Linked DNA regions of Homo sapiens: region 1 is linked to region 2. Evidence: fine-mapped expression QTL. A gene starts in region 2. The other region holds a variant in brackets. All regions are shown on one strand. Distances are from middle to middle.

Region 1 (8,370 bases), 28 kb before region 2:
ATGTAATCATTGGAAAAACACTCACTTAATGCCTACCATACACTAGTCAGAATGCCAAATAGAGGTGTAGGTTTATGGGAAGATTATGAATTCAGCACAGGTTGAGTTTAGGCTGCCAACTGGTGAATAAGATAAATATATTTAGTAGCCAGTATAGAACACTGGTTGAAAGCACTGGCTTAGCCGGGCATGGTGGCACATGCCTGTAGTCCCAGCTACTCCAAGGGCTGAGGTGGGAGGATTGCTTGAGCCTGGCGAGGTGGAGGTTGCAGTGAGCCAAGATCGTGCCACTGCACTCCAGCTTGGGCAACAGAGTGAGACTCTTGTCTTTTTTTTTTTTAAAAAAAAAAAAAAAAAAAAAAAAAAAAAAAAAAAAGGCAAGCAAGCACTGGCTTTGGAGTCAGGCAGTCCGGGTTCAACTCCTGGCTGTGACCTGACATTTATGAACTGAGATTAAAAATCATGCCATCTGTAATTCTCAGATTCTTCATTTGTAATTGAGAAAGCCACAACCTTCTTTCTGGGTTCTTATGAGGATTAAACTAGTTAATGCATTTAAAAACAGTGCCAGGAAAACAGAAAATATTAATATTTAGAAATGGTTCCTATTGGCCGGGCGTGGTGGCTCACGCTTGAATCCCAGCACTTTGGGCGGCTGAGAAAGGCAGATCACCTGAGGTTAGGAGTTTGAGACCAGCCTGGCCAACATGGTGAAACCCCATCTCTACGAAAAATACAAAAATTAGCCAGGTGTGGCGGCACGCACCTGTAGTCCCAGCTACTTGGGAGGCTGAGACAGGAGAATCACTTGAACCCAGGAGGCAGAGGTTGCAGTGAGCTGAGATCACGCCACTGCACTCCAGCCTGGGCGATAGAGTGAGACTCCATCCAAAAAAAAGAAAAGAATAGAAAAAAAAAGGAAAAGAAAAGATTCCTATTAATATTATATTATTACAGAACTGCTGGAAACATTGGTTTTAGAGGTCAGGGCTAGGATGACTTGGGGTCACCCACATGGAAGGGATGGTTGCAGCCGCTAAGAGTTAGAAAGATTATTCAAGGAGAGCTTCTTCAGTAAGTACACAAGGCCAGTGGAGGAAGGTAACTGAATTGGTAACAGGCTCTGAAGATTCAAAAGGCCTGATGAGAGAAAAAAATAACCTAACTCAACTGGTCCCTATGTCCCTCAGTTCAACAAGTGTTTGTTAAAGGATCAGATAACCAACTGTTAGATTACAATGATAGAGAAGTCACAATCCCCACCCTCAAGGAGCTCATTCTACTGTGGAGAGGCATACAAATAATTATAATACTGTAAGAATATGCACATGAAAAAGCCCTACTGCTACCTAAGCCTCTGTCTGGGATGCCCACTGTCTGCTCTTTTCATCCTGTAGCTTTAAATATTGGCTTCTCAAAGAGGCTTCCTCTGATCATCTAACTCATTCACTCAAATATTTTTTGAGTGTTTCCAGCACTGTTCTAAACCCCAAAGACAAAAGAATGAACAAAACAAAATCCCTGCTCTTATGGCATTTACATTCTAGTGGGGAGAGATTCACATTAAACAAAGATGCATACATTTAATATGAAAAAATAACTCTCTATGAAGAAAAATGAGGCAGGGTAACCAGAGTAGCGGGAGTGCTATTTGGGCAGAAGTCCTCTCTGAGGAGGTCAGATTTCAGTAGAAAGTTTAAGTTGTGGCATGATCTCCAAAGATATTTGAGGAAGAAAAAGACCAGGTGAAAAAGCTTCTAGGACCATCTGTTATTCTGCATACCAGTTCCTTGTTTCCTTCACAGCACATCACAGTTCCTGGAAGTCTTACATATTTATATTTACTTTTATCTGTTCTCCTCGCAAATATAAGCTCCAAGTAATGGCAAGGATCTCTTATATGTCGATGTCAGTGTCCCTGGCCCTTAGAACAGTGCCTAACCATACAAAGCTGATGTTCACTCTATCTGCTGAATGAATAAATAATTGTTGCGCTCACTAATGATAACAACTCCTAACTTTATTACCTGGCTTTCTATTGGAATCCTGACAGCTCCATGAGGTAGCTAAGGATAATAATCTACAGATTTAAAAAAATGAAGCGAAGAGTGTGAGAATAGTCATCAGGTGGGCTTCTAACAGGAAAAGGTCTCAGGGCCTACGGCAAAATTCGGAGGGGGGGTTACGGAAAGGACAGGGTGGATTAGGCCATGGTGACTTGGAGAGAGGAGGCACGACTGGCCATTTTTCCTGAGTCTGGAAAAAGCAGCCTAGTACAAGAAGCTCCTTCGAGCGACCTCCTTAAAATACACTTACCTGGTCTACGTCGTCCGCCATGTTTCAAACCCTGCGCCCTTTCCCGCCTCTCGCGAGAACACAAGAGCAACGTCAATCTCCGGAAACGTGAGGATACAATACACCGGAAATAGAGAGAAACCTGTTGTGCTCTTTCCTGCTTCCCGCAGTTTTTTAGTGGCCACGGGTATGGGGTGGAGCTTCCTTTAGGGGCGTGACTAGGCCTCCAACGAAGGGGCGTGGCCAAGCGCACCGCCTCGGGGCGGGGCCGGCGTTCTAGCGCATCGCGGCCGGGTGCGTCACTCGCGAAGTGGAATTTGCCCAGACAAGCAACATGGCTCGGAAACGCGCGGCCGGCGGGGAGCCGCGGGGACGCGAACTGCGCAGCCAGAAATCCAAGGCCAAGAGCAAGGCCCGGCGTGAGGAGGAGGAGGAGGGTGAGAGCGAGGCCCAGCGGGCTTCGCGGGAGACGCCGCCGGTGGGCGGAGGAGGCCCAGAGGCAGGGCGGGAGTCCAGACGCGGAGGCCTGGTGGAGGTTGCTGCGCGCGTTCCGCGCCGTGGGGGCAGCCCGGCAGGCTGCGGCCGGCCCTCCCCGCTGTCCCCGCGTCTTTGTCCTGCGCACCCAGAGCGGTTTCCCGCGAGCTTCGCCCGATCCAAGCTCCTGCGTAGCTTTTTTCCCGCTCCCCGTTGTCCAGAGGATACAGATGTTCAGGGTTGAACTCGGAGAAGGCAGTTATTTGTGTCCCAGGAAGACAGACGGACGGACCAGGACGTAGAGTGATGCAGTGTGCTGACTCCCGAATGATAACTTCAGCTGAGTCTCACCCAGAGTTCCACAGTGGGATCCCACCTGACTTCCCCTCATGGATATTTGATAGGCTTCTTACATTTGTCATGGGCAATGCAGAACTCATGGTTTTCCTCTTTAAATCTATGCTTTCCTCCGTTTTTCCAGTCTCAATACTTGTTATAAAGCAAAGCCCACCTTTTTCTTATGTCCACACATCCAGTCCGTCAGCAAGTCCAGTCAGTTCAGCCTCAAGAGTGTATTTCAAATTTGTCCACTTCTCTTCATTTCCATGACCACAGCCCCTGTCCAAGTCATCATCACCTTTCAGTTGAGTGACTGCAGTTTCCTCTTTACTGGCCTCCCAGCTCTGCATCCAGCAACCCAAATAATCTTAAAAAAAAAAAAAATCATGCCCTGCTCCTGCTTTAAACTCCCCTTGGTTTTCCATTGCTCTTAGCTTAAAATCCAGTTGTTTTATCCTGGCCTACAAGATACTACATGTTTTGGCTCTTGCTACCTCTCCTGTTTCTCTTACCACTTGTTTCCTTGCCAGATACCCTCCTTATTGGCCTCCTTTCTCTTCCTCAAATATGCCAAGTTATTCCTTGAGTCTTTTCCTTTGATGTTCCTTCTGCCTAGAGTGAACCCCCCATGGCTTTTACCAGGGCTGATTTTTTCTATTTCTTCAAAACTCAAGTTAGACATTCCTTGAGCAAACTAAGGTGGTCCTTCCCAGATACCCCGCGGATACTAAAACCTGTGATGCTCAAGTACCTTATATCAAATGGCCTAGTGTTTCCATGTAACCTATGCACATCCTCCGACATACTTTAAATCATCTCTAGATCACTAATAATACCTAATACAATGTGGATACTATGGAAATAGTTGTCATGCTGTATTTTTTAAATTTGTATTTTTTTTCCCGAAATATATTCATCTGTGGTTGGTTGAATCTGTGGATGCAGGGCCCGTGGATTGGTAGGGCTAAATGCTAAATAAATATTTTATTTATTTTTTATTTTTTTCGAGACAGTGTCTCACTCTGTCGCTGAGGCTGGAGTGCAGTGGCGTGACCTCCGCCTCCTAGGTTCAAGTGATTCTCCTGCCTCAGCCTCCCGAGTAGCTGGTGTTACAGGTGCCTGACACCATGTCCGGCTAATTTTTGTATTTTTGTATAGATGGGGTTTCGCCATGTTGGCCAGGCTGGTCTCAAACTCCTGACCTCAGGTGATCCGTTTGCCTCGGCCTCCCGAAGTGTTGGGATTACAGGCATGAGCCACTGCGCC[C/T]GGCTAGTAAATATTTTAAATAATTGCAAAATGCAGGCTGTAGAAGGAATTTCTGGGTCTCCTGAAAAAACTGGGTAGATTAGACTAGGTAACCGGCAAAGGCTATCACACTAGATTCTGTTTCTATACCGGTTATAAATTCATCATCCATTAGGAAATAGTGAAATGGTAATAATTCGTAAACTTAGGAGGTGATTTACCTCATATGTAATATTACGAGTTCCATTTTATTCACTCATTTACTCATTCAAATAACATCTTTTGAGTATCTACTATGTGCTGTACATGAATGAGGTGACATGAGAGATAAACATATCTTGGAGGATCATAGAGTAGTGTTGACATGACATTTACATGTAAAACATTCAAGGCAAAGTGTGCTAAATATTGTGGAAGAAGGTACAAGGCTTTGTAGCTTCCAAAGGATTAATCAAGTTTGACTGGCGTGATCGGGGAACGCTCTCTGAAGTAGTTTGATCTGTGATTTAAAGGATGGTTGGTATTTTAGCAAGGGGTCACAAAAAGGGGCCGGTATTCTAGTCAGAATGTAATTTGGATATATGGCAATTAAAAATTTACGGTTTTAATCTGATGGAAATGCTACCTGTATTCTTCCCAGCTCAACACTTCACCTCGGTTCCAGCTTGGTAGAGCTTCAATTCTTAGTTTTATGCACTTGGGTGAATTATTTTGGACAAATGTTTTAGCCCTTCTGAATTTCCTCTGTGAAATGTAATAACTGCCTTGCGGGGTGGCTGTGAGTTTTCAGTGGGATAGCATATAAAGCCAAGAGCTTTAGCTTTACCCATGTTAGGTAAATTAGTTGGGCTAGCTGGTGTCATTCAGCCTAAACGGAGGTAAAGATGCACCCAAGTTTATTCTGCTAGCCAGAGGAGCTAGCAGTCAGTTCCCAAGGCAGCTTCCAGGATCTGCAGAGTTACAACCTTTGTTGTGGTTTGGTGGTTTTGTGGGGAAGCATAGACTTAGCAAGTATGGTTTGGGCTGCAGATGACAATAATTTGGTGACTGTCAGTGTAGTTGCTAACACTGTAATAGTGTAGGTTTTAATAGCACCCCTGTACATGCAAATGAAGGTGATACTTGGCTGCTTTTGACAAATAGGAGAAAAGAAAACAGGCTTCCACATGATTTCCTTTGTGTTACTAAAGCACCTCTGGTTTCTTTTCATTTCTTCTCTGTGTTAACACCTTCAGTGATATCCATTAATTCCTTCAACAGCTGTTTATTGAGCGCCTACTATTTTCACACACTGTTCCAGGTACTAGGATAATATTGAACAAGACAGATGAGGCACCTGCTCTCATGATTATAATCTGGGGGGAGGGGTACTTAGAGCAGATAACAAGTTAAAAAAAAACGGATTCACATGATGATAAGAGCTATCACCCTGTGCTAAGACTGCTGTGATAAAACTTATTTGGGTACATAGCAGAAAATGCTTCTATAGATGAAAAGAAAAACCCTCAAACTTATATGGGGCTGGGGGAGAGGCAGCTAAATGGGAATCAGTGTCAGGGAAGGCCTTTGTAAGGAGGTGGCATTTTGAGGCATTTAGTGTAATTTTGAGCCATTCATAGGAAGTTCTGGGGAAAAGAGTTCTAGGCAGAGAGAACAGTGTGTTTAAACACTCTTAGGAGGGAATGAACTTGGCCAGTTGGCTGGACACAGCGAGCGAGGGGCTGGGTAGGAGAAGTGAGCAAGGGCCTGAGCTTGGATACCAAGCTAAGGAGTTGGAATTTTATTCTGAGTGCTATGAGTTGCTGCTGGAAGGTTTACTCCGGTGTTCTTATTAAATCCCAGTAGATGGGCAAGCAGACCACAGTGGTAATTCCTGCCCTACTGAAAGAACACTGAACTCAAGGAGTCTGGTTAGGCATATTAGATAACTCAAGATTTTGGAGAGTCCTGGAAAAGAGTCTCTAGATGCTTAGGGACCAAAAAATAGCAGAGAACAGAAAGTCACCCATATTTCTGCCATCCAGAAATAGCCACCATGAAATAGTGGTCTGTTTCCTTCTAGTCTGTTTTTTATATAGCAGAAAGCATACTGTAAAATCAACTTTGCATGAGTAACATTACATCATATATCGTTTTTCTTTATCTTAAAGGATGACTCAATTATATTTTGTTGTGTGGCTCTGCCATAAGTTACTTAACAATTATCTCATGGTTGGACATTCAGATTATTGTTAGATGCTTTTGAATACTATGAACATCCTTTTGATTCAGAGTTTTTGTGTTTCCTTTATCCCCCTTTCCCTTTTAACTCCTCTACCTTTCTCTTCAAACGGAAATAAAAGCTGTGCTTTTTAACCAACTAGAAAAGTTTGTGATGCCTCTGAAGTATCCTCCTACGTGCATTTTTTTAGATTAGTAGAAATTGAAGTGTTTAGCATCTTTGCCTATTATTAGAGGGCTAACTACCATTGTAAGATCCAGAAATCTTGATTTTAGGGGCACCCTCCTCAAACTGTCAAATCTTAAGCTTTATGCAACCTCTGGCCTTGGAGTAGGCAATCTGTTCTCAGATTTGAAAAAATTAATTTTGAAATAATTTGTACTTCAAAATTTTTCCTTATTTTTTGGTTTCCATACAATGTTTAAAAATGGGAATGCATAAATTCCTTTTTTATAAAACATTTAAAGAAACAACGGAATCAATGATCTAACATTAAAATAAATGCTCCTTTGTTATGAATTTTATTAACATTTAATCATGATTTCATTTAGATCAGAAGGGAGAGTCTTTTTTCCCTCATGCAAAAGTATATTCTTGTGGAATATAAATACCCATCCAGAGAGTCAGCAAGACAAACAATGAAAAGACTGAATTATTAAATAATTTTATATTTTAGGTTAATATTGCAATCCCTTTTGGAACCTCAATAAAAGGTAGAGTATTTTTATTTTCTAAAATTAATTGAAGCAGAGTCATGCAAAGACAAAAGATTTATTTCAGATTCAAGATAATTTGTGTGAATATATTTGCAAAATAGAAAACTATCCTTCCCTGCCATATTATTTGTTAAAACTAATCTATTAATATAATTATTATATGTAAATAAACCATAATTTTAGATACCCCAATTTGACTAAAACCAGCAGCTTATGCATTTTTTATTTCCCTTTAACAAAAAAATAATTACTTTAAGAAAATACTTTTGAATTATTGCTGTCTTTTTCCAACTGTAAGTTTGCTGAGGTGGTTGGTATATGAGTGCCATTTGGGTTACATTGGAAAGGTTTCAGAGCAGTATGTGTTTTGAGCAGTTTGGTCTTGAAGGTTGGCAGAAATGTAGATTAATAGTAATGATGTTGTGGTAAAACTTGGACATGTTTATGTACTTAACATTTTACTTAGGAGTACATTATCCCTAAGACAATTAATTTTGGCAGATAATAAATAAGGTGCTAATTAATGGATGTTGTATTTTCCTGGCAGGAGGTTAGCTGACATTTAAGATCTGGAAGTTAGGTTTTATTTGAGTCCTATGGTATTTTCTGTAGTCATAGGAGAAGTAAAGTGCTGATAAAGGAAGATGGTTTTTACTGTGAATATAGACTAGCCGCAGGTGGGAAGAAGCTGAGAGCTGGTTGCTGACCAGACAGGGGATGGTGAACCAGTGATGGAGATGGGGTTTGGAGACAGGTCATAGAGCCGTTTTATGCCCCTGCCCATAAGCTGCACTGCCTCCACCTTTCCTTCCACCCCTCACCTTATGTTCTGTGTTGTCACCTAGATGCCTTTGAAGATGAGAAACCCCCAAAGAAGAGCCTTCTCTCCAAAGTTTCACAAGGAAAGAGGAAAAGAGGCTGCAGTCATCCTGGGGGTTCAGCAGATGGTCCAGCAAAAAAGAAAGTGGCCAAGGTGACTGTTAAATCTGAAAACCTCAAGGTTATAAAGGATGAAGCCCTCAGCGATGGGGATGACCTCAGGTGAGATGTCTGCAAAGCTTTGTCTCGGGTCTTGATTTT
Region 2 (8,255 bases):
CACTGCCCCCTCCTGGACACTTCCCTCCCCCACATGGTGTTAACAGCAGATCAGAGCCTCAGCAGGTGTTCGCTTGGTGGTGGTAGTAAACGTGAGTGTGCCTGCGCACAGCGGCCTTTACCCCATCCTGATAGTCTGCAGCTGGAGCTCTCACAGGCTCTGGACAGCAGAGGAGAAGAAAACCTATGAAGGGGAGGAGTGGTGGAGGCAAGGCACAAAGGCTGCAGATTAGGGTTTGTAAGTGGACACATCCCCCAAAAGACAGGCAGTCCACGTTCAAGGCTGTTTGCCTAGCACAGCTTCTCTGGGCCCCCTAGGAGCTCGGCCTGCTCCAGGGTGGCTGAACCTGAGGAGGGAGCCTGCAGGGCTGCGCTCTCCACTGTCCCGCATTCCCGCAGTGGGGCTGTGGACTGAGTTACCTTTGTGTCCTGTGTTGGTTCCACAGGGATTGTGTGCACACTCTGCATTCCAGGGACACGTGGCTGAAGAAAGCAAGAGTGGTGAGGCTTGGAGAAGTACCCTACAAGGTAACTGGAGCTGGGGGGTCCCTGTGGGGAGTGGTGACACAGGCCTGTAGCTGAGCGGGAGAGCTGGGGGCAGAGAAGTGATGATGAGCCTCCCAGTCCTGCCCAGGATCCTGATCAGAAATGTCTCACTTTCCCGGCTTGAGCAGGATTCAAGGAGGAGAGAAACATTTAAATTGTCTTATTAATAAGACATTTGTAAGAAATGGATCTTCCAAAACACAAAAGAAATCTAGGCCAAAAAGTAGGCCTCAGACTCCTGTTGTGAATTCAAAGGTTCTACAGGTTGGAATTGAGTTACTGGGTCCTGGGAGGTCAGAGCCCTGCTTTATAGCAGCACGTTCTCCAGTCAGATTGCCCTTCTGTTTGGCAGTTCACTGAGCATTTTGCATGTATGTGATCTCTGTTGCCTCAAAAGCCATAGGAATTGGCATTATGATGCCCATTTTACAGATGAGAAAACTGAAGCTCAGGGCAAGTGACTTGTCCAAGTCCCCACAGTTAGTAAAATGGCAGAGCAGAGCCCAGGTGAGAATCCCAGGCTCTGCCTTAAAGCCAGTGCTCCTTTCACACTGTGCTGCGGCACTGTTAGGCTGGTTGCTCTTGAGGAACACGAACCGAGCGAGGTCCCACAGAGACTATTCACAGGACACACAGCTCCGTACGACCGGAAGTGTACAGTGGCTGATCACAGAGACCATTTACTTCTCATCAGACCCCAGGAGTCCTTGGGGGTTGCAAGACTCCGGGAAGCTGAGTGGGGAGTGGAGGGGCCTCCGCTTAGTGGGAAAGGCTGCAGGCGCTGGTCACAGTCACTGCCAGCAGCAGGCTGGAGTGGGCGATGCCCCCTGCCTGGGCCTGCAGGGTTGCTGAGGATTTTCTCTGCACCATCTCACCTGTCTTTTGTGCTGGAACCAGCATAGCAGTGTTCAGTTGAAATGTAACGTGAGCCACACATTTAAATTTTTTAGTAGCTACATTAAAAACCAAAAACAGGTGGAATTTTAACATTAAAATATATCCAGATATATCTAAAATACTATTTCAGCAGTAAGAAATATTTTAAAGTGTTGATGAGATATTTAAATCCATTTTGTTCCTAAGTCTCTCTAATCTTCTGTGTATTTGACTTTCTGTACCTTAGTTCAGACCAGCCACGTTTCAGGTGTGCAGTGGCCACACGTGACTGGTGGCTGTCATGGTAGCACAGTTCTGGAATCCCAAATCTCTCAAATTCACCCCTTGTTCTGATCCCCACCACCCCAGCTCCTGCCTCAGTATCTTTTGCTTGGGCAACAGCCACAGCCTCCTTCCCAGCCTGAATCCATTCCCCTGTCAGTCACTAGGCTCTTTCTGTGCATCTTGGCCATCCTTGTCCCACCTTGGCCAGCGCCTTTAGTCTGAGTCCCGCACCCTCCCCATGGTGCACAGTGATGTTCTGGTGCTCACTGCCTCTGCATTCCAGAGGACTTAGGCCCCAGGTCCCAGTGTTCTCCCACCTCTGTGCCCTGTGGGGTCCAGCCCTGTTCTCTTGGGCAACCCCTTGCCCCTTTAAGCCTCTGCTCAGGCGGGACCTGTTTTGAGCAGCCTTTCTTGCCTCCACTGTCCTCAGGGCTGGGCAATGGCTTGCCTCTGAGCTCCTGTTCCACCCTGTACTCATCACGCTGAGTCGTAGCTCTGTCTCTTCCCCTGCAGGAGCCTGAGCTCCTAAGAGCAAAGACTGTCCTCGCTCCATCCCTCCTTCATGACTGGGTCATGGCCTGGTCTCCAGGAGATCCCAGTGGAAGTTTACTGAACAGTGTGCTGGGTGAATGGCTTCTCAGAAAGGGACGGTTGTCAGAACTCAGAGTCCCTCTGTCCCTGAAGTGGTGACAGAGAGGGTGCGCCCAGAGATCATGGCAGGAATGGACATGAGAGCTCGCAGGCCACCCCCAACCTGGGGAATGGCTTTTCACATTTTTAAAGGGTTATAAGAATGAGAAGAATAAAGAATATGTGATGGAGGCCACGCATGACCCTTTACAGAACAAGCTTGTGGGCCCCTGCACTAGAGGAAGTCTGTATGCTGAGGCCCAGGGGCCAGCCCTCAGCCGCACGCCCATGCCTGACTCCTCTAAGAGTTACGTGACTCTGTCCTTGCCTGTCCTGCGCCCCTCTCACCACTTCACTCCCCAGGGAAGATCTTGGCCTTGGCCACTGCACGCTGTTGGGGAGCACACTGGGAGTCCTGAACTGTCAGTGCTTTCTAGGGCGTGTGAGCAGACATAGGTTATATGTTGAGACACAGGCTCTACTGATGGACAGTTACCTGAATTGTAAATCCTGGTTCTTGTCACTTACCAGCCATCAGCTCTTAAGTGACTTTGTCTCTCAGTCTCAGTCACTGCTATCAGTGATGACAGCACAGAATATAGGCTAGTGGATGAAAGTGTGGGCTCTGGCCCTTACGAGCTGTGTGACTTTAGGCAAATCATTTACCCCGTCTGTGGTGTTCATCTGTAAAATGGAAACAATAATAAGACCTACCTTGTGGGTTTGTTGAAAAAATTAAATAATAACATATAAAGCACTGAAGATAGGCTGGGCGCAGTGGCTCATGCCTGTAATTCCAGCACTTTCGGAGGCCAAGGCAGGTGGATCATTTGAGGTCAGAAGTTTGAGACCAGCCAGGCCAATATGGTGACACCCCATCTCTACCAAAAATATAAAAATTAGCTGGGCATGGTGGCGGGTACCTGTAGTCCCAGCTACTCAGGAGACAGGCACGAGAATCACTTGAATCCGGGAGGTGGAGGTTGTAGTGAGCTGAGATCACACCAGGGCACTCCAGCCTGGGCAACAGAGTGAGACTCCGTCTCAGGGGGATAAAAAAACAAAAAACACCGAGAATAGTGTCTGGGACAGAGAATGTTCCATAAATGTTAGCTAGTGCTTGTAGTAAGAAAAGGGGAGCAGCCGGGCACGGTGGCTCACGCCTGTAATCCCAGCCCTTTGGGAGGTTGAGGCGAGTGCATCACCTGAGGTCAGGAGTTCGAGACCAGCCTGGCCAACATGGTGAAACCCCCGTCTCTACTAAAAATACAAAAATTAGCCGGGCGTGGTGGCAGGCACCTGTAATCCCAGCTACTCAGGAGGCTGAGGCAGGAGAATTGCTTAAACCCAGGAGGCAGAGGTTGCAGCGAGCCAAGATTGCACCACTGTACTCCAGCCTGGGCGACAGAGCGAGACTCTGTCTCAAAAAAAAAAAAGGGAGAAAAAGCACCCCAGCTGGTAGGTGTGTTCTGAGGGTTCACCAGGTACCAGGCATGCGGCACTGAGCATGGTGCCTGGCCCGGTGCTGAGGAACTGGATGCCTTTGTTGTAAACGGTGGCCGTGTCCTCTGGTGCAGATGGTGAAAGGCTTTTCTAACCGTGCTCGGAAAGCCCGACTTGCTGAGCCCCAGCTGCGGGAAGAAAATGACCTGGGCCTGTTTGGCTACTGGCAGACAGAGGAGTATCAGCCCCCAGTGGCCGTGGACGGGAAGGTAAGGGCAGCATCAGAAGGGCTCAGGACCAGGCCGCCTTGTTCCCCTGCTGGCCAAATGCTGACTTGCTCACCCGACACAGGTGCCCCGGAACGAGTTTGGGAATGTGTACCTCTTCCTGCCCAGCATGATGCCTATTGGCTGTGTCCAGCTGAACCTGCCCAATCTACACCGCGTGGCCCGCAAGCTGGACATCGACTGTGTCCAGGCCATCACTGGCTTTGATTTCCATGGCGGCTACTCCCATCCCGTGTGCGTGAGGGGCCTTCGATGGAGGCTAAACACAGGGATGGGGAGGGGTGGCTCCAGAGATGGGGATGGAAAGCTGGCATGGGGCTGCTGGGAGTTGAGGCCTGGTGGCTCCAATTTTCAGGATGTTACACTGGATTTGCAAAGTCAGTGCTTTACCAATTCTGGCTTCCCTCCAGAGGGAACGGAGCCAATGAAACTGGCATCGTAATGCTGGATTAAAACGTTCTTCCCAGGTTTAGGGACTCACAGGCTAGTGAGCAAAAAACAGTCAGCATCTTTCCCCGGCAGCTGCCTGGTTAGTGAGCTCTGTTCCATGATGGGTGAGGCTGGATAGGGGCTTTCACCCCAGCTTTCTTCGGCAGAATCTGGGGAGGAAGAGGCAGTGCCAGCTTCCACAGGCCTGCCTTCTGCACGGAGGATGTGGGACACTGGCTGACCCGCGACATCCTTCAGGACCCCTAGTGCTCAGATGTGGCCCACTGTCTTCCACAAACTGGGGAGGGAGGAGAGGCAGAGCAGGCAGCAGGTTCGAGGGTTGACATCGCGTTGTGTCCCCACAGGACTGATGGATACATCGTCTGCGAGGAATTCAAAGACGTGCTCCTGACTGCCTGGGAAAATGAGCAGGCAGTCATTGAAAGGAAGGAGAAGGAGGTAAGCGCATATGCAGGACTGAGGGACAGCAGAAGCGGGAAGCAACACTCAGCGGGTGGCCTCTTCCTTCCCCAGGCCGCCTCCGTGTGCTCCCAGGCTCTTCCCAGCCCTCTCTGACATCATGGCAGGCACCCGAGGGAGCGAGCACTGAATACAGCAGGCTCCTGCCCACCCCGCAGACTATCACTGTCCCTGAGGAGCCTGGGTCCGGGCTCTGGGGTCTACTGCCCCTGCTGCCCACACCTGCCTCTGTCTTGAATTGCCTGTGTCCAGGTTCTGGAAGACCTCACCCACTAAAGATTTTGGAGTCAGTAACGATTAAAAAGTTATCTGTTTTTGTGGCTTTCAGGTATAGTATATCACTTTGTAAATCAGATCAATTTTTTGGAAGTGAGACTTGGTGTGAAGGAGAGGCTATATTCTAAAGTGGTGTATATATCTGTCTTTACATTCACAGTTTCCATCTTAATATTTTTCCTGAAAATGTCAGTGCTTAACACTTTTCTCCCACTTCATTTTTGCCTGCAGAAAAAGGAGAAGCGGGCTCTAGGGAACTGGAAGTTGCTGGCCAAAGGTCTGCTCATCAGGGAGAGGCTGAAGCGTCGCTACGGGCCCAAGGTCAGTGCAGGTTCTTTGCAGAGAAGACAAGCTCAGGGTCAGTTTCTTGGAGATGCAGCTCAGAAAGGCCTGGCCCAGATTCTGCCCCAGCCTCAAGTCAGGGATAGCTTTGTGTTAGGACACCTCAGTCTTCTGTCTCTAAGGCCGCTTGTTTTTACCTTGTTGGGAAAGGTGTCCCTGGAGTGAGGCCTCAGCTGGCTCTTCTGCCCCAAGCCCTGTCCCAGTGTCCCCGTTTCTACTGTCCACATGAGCAATGCCATGGGTCTGATTTGGCGCTGAACACATAGGGAGGGCCAAGTGTCCTGCATTTGGTGCACCCTTCCGCCTTCCAGTGTTCCCAGTGCCTGTGACCATGCTGCAGGCCTGCAGTGGCCCGCTCAGTACCTCTCTCACAGCACCTGCCATGTGCCAGGCCAGGCTTGGACACAGGTGTGAATTTGACATGCAGCCCTCAAGGGGGCCCCTCCCTGGGGCAGATGGACCCTAGGCCCAGTTACATGGTATAGTCAGTGCTGTGTCAGACACAGCAGAAACTGCTCTGGCATGTTTTGTTCCCTCTCTCCAACCCTCTGTGCTGCCTGTTTGCCTTTCAACATTTTTTTGTCACGCTCCTCATTCCAGTCCCTCTGGTGGAGAAAAGCCCTTCATCTGACTTTATGTTCTGACCAGCTCCTTGCCGCCTTCTCCATCCAAACCCTCCCTAGCCATCCCAGCTGGCAGGGAGTGCCGCCTCAGATCTTAGGGCTCCGAGGGCTGAACTGTGCATCTTGCCCGTTCAAGACATCATGTGCTTTGGTCCAGAAATGAGGTAGCAAATGCAAGGCACGAATCACAGGCATCCCCAGATGAGGCAGTGTGCTCCTAGAGGGCAGCTTCCTGCCCAGCCATCATCCTTGTGTTCCCCTGCACTCAGCTCGTAGCAGGTGCTCCAGTGTCTGCTTGGATGCACCCCAGGCTGGGACGGCTCAGTAAGAAGGGTCTGGGCTCTCTCCCTGCCCTGTCCCATGCCCTTGTCCTCCCAGAGTTACACAGCTTAGGGCAGGCTGGGAACTTGCTGCCTCTTCATGGGGCTTCCTGGTATCTGATTACTAACCCTCGCCTGTGTCCTCCCACCACTGCCACCTGTCCAGAGTGAGGCAGCAGCTCCCCACACAGATGCAGGAGGTGGACTCTCTTCTGATGAAGAGGAGGGGACCAGCTCTCAAGCAGAAGCGGCCAGGATACTGGCTGCCTCCTGGCCTCAAAACCGAGAAGATGAAGAAAAGCAGAAGCTGAAGGGTGGGCCCAAGAAGACCAAAAGGGAAAAGAAAGCAGCAGCTTCCCACCTGTTCCCATTTGAGCAGCTGTGAGCTGAGCGCCCACTAGAGGGGCACCCACCAGTTGCTGCTGCCCCACTACAGGCCCCACACCTGCCCTGGGCATGCCCAGCCCCTGGTGGTGGGGGCTTCTCTGCTGAGAAGGCAAACTGAGGCAGCATGCACGGAGGCGGGGTCAGGGGAGACGAGGCCAAGCTGAGGAGGTGCTGCAGGTCCCGTCTGGCTCCAGCCCTTGTCAGATTCACCCAGGGTGAAGCCTTCAAAGCTTTTTGCTACCAAAGCCCACTCACCCTTTGAGCTACAGAACACTTTGCTAGGAGATACTCTTCTGCCTCCTAGACCTGTTCTTTCCATCTTTAGAAACATCAGTTTTTGTATGGAAGCCACCGGGAGATTTCTGGATGGTGGTGCATCCGTGAATGCGCTGATCGTTTCTTCCAGTTAGAGTCTTCATCTGTCCGACAAGTTCACTCGCCTCGGTTGCGGACCTAGGACCATTTCTCTGCAGGCCACTTACCTTCCCCTGAGTCAGGCTTACTAATGCTGCCCTCACTGCCTCTTTGCAGTAGGGGAGAGAGCAGAGAAGTACAGGTCATCTGCTGGGATCTAGTTTTCCAAGTAACATTTTGTGGTGACAGAAGCCTAAAAAAAGCTAAAATCAGGAAAGAAAAGGAAAAATACGAATTGAAAATTAAGGAAATGTTAGTAAAATAGATGAGTGTTAAACTAGATTGTATTCATTACTAGATAAAATGTATAAAGCTCTCTGTACTAAGGAGAAATGACTTTTATAACATTTTGAGAAAATAATAAAGCATTTATCTAAAGATTTGGCTCTATATTTTCTTTCAGATTTTTTTTTTTTTAAGGGGTCTTACTGTCTTGCGCAGGCTGGACTCCTGGGCTTGAGTGGTCTTCCTGAGGGCTTTGCCTCAGCTGGCCCTCACAACCACCGTGTGTGGTGGAAAGGCATTGTTCGGGAAACAGTCCCAGCTCCTCAGGACTGCAGGCACCCACACACCACTGCCGTGCCCAGCTTCTTTCAGATTTAAGTCGGTAATAACACCCAGGTGACAGAGCAATGTATTCATATGTTGAGACAGCATGAAAGAGTCCATTTTGTTTTCATGGAGGCTGGAAATTCATTACATATGGAATTCTTCTGTATTTAGTGAAGAGATGTTAATCTTTGAGAGGAGCCATTAAAAATCGGAGTCACTTTTATCCAAGGGAAACAAACAAAACACTTGAGTTATGACTCATATGTGGCAAGAGGCTGGCTGGAACCTCTTGTTGAGAAACAGACTGGGGTTGCTATGGAAACTGGTCTCACACTTCCTCACCAGAGCTCGGCCCTCCTATAGAGG

What was found.
Region 1: its variant is fine-mapped to the expression of XPC-AS1 in whole blood (INTERVAL, PIP above 0.99).

The regions. Positions count from the first base shown.
Region 1 is chr3:14,172,828-14,181,197 of GRCh38, reverse strand. XPC (XPC complex subunit, DNA damage recognition and repair factor) reads left to right here and starts at 2,597. Exons shown (of 16, transcript NM_004628.5): 1 at 2,597-2,732; 2 at 8,136-8,331. The coding sequence starts at 2,630. LSM3 (LSM3 homolog, U6 small nuclear RNA and mRNA degradation associated) reads right to left here and starts at 2,381. Exons shown (of 4, transcript NM_014463.3): 1 at 2,317-2,381. The coding sequence starts at 2,337. RefSeq lists enhancers at 2,288-2,337, 2,438-2,787 and a silencer at 2,838-2,957. The variant C/T (reference allele first, on the strand shown) is at 4,375.
Region 2 is chr3:14,144,607-14,152,861 of GRCh38, reverse strand. It overlaps XPC-AS1 (XPC antisense RNA 1), which reads right to left and starts at 3,300. Exons shown (of 2, transcript XR_001740603.2): 1 at 3,260-3,300; 2 at 1-3,020. It overlaps XPC (XPC complex subunit, DNA damage recognition and repair factor), which reads left to right. Exons shown (of 16, transcript NM_004628.5): 11 at 446-527; 12 at 3,914-4,048; 13 at 4,131-4,300; 14 at 4,861-4,954; 15 at 5,483-5,572; 16 at 6,703-7,715. The coding sequence ends at 6,921. RefSeq lists enhancers at 1,507-2,007, 3,625-4,309, 7,973-8,082.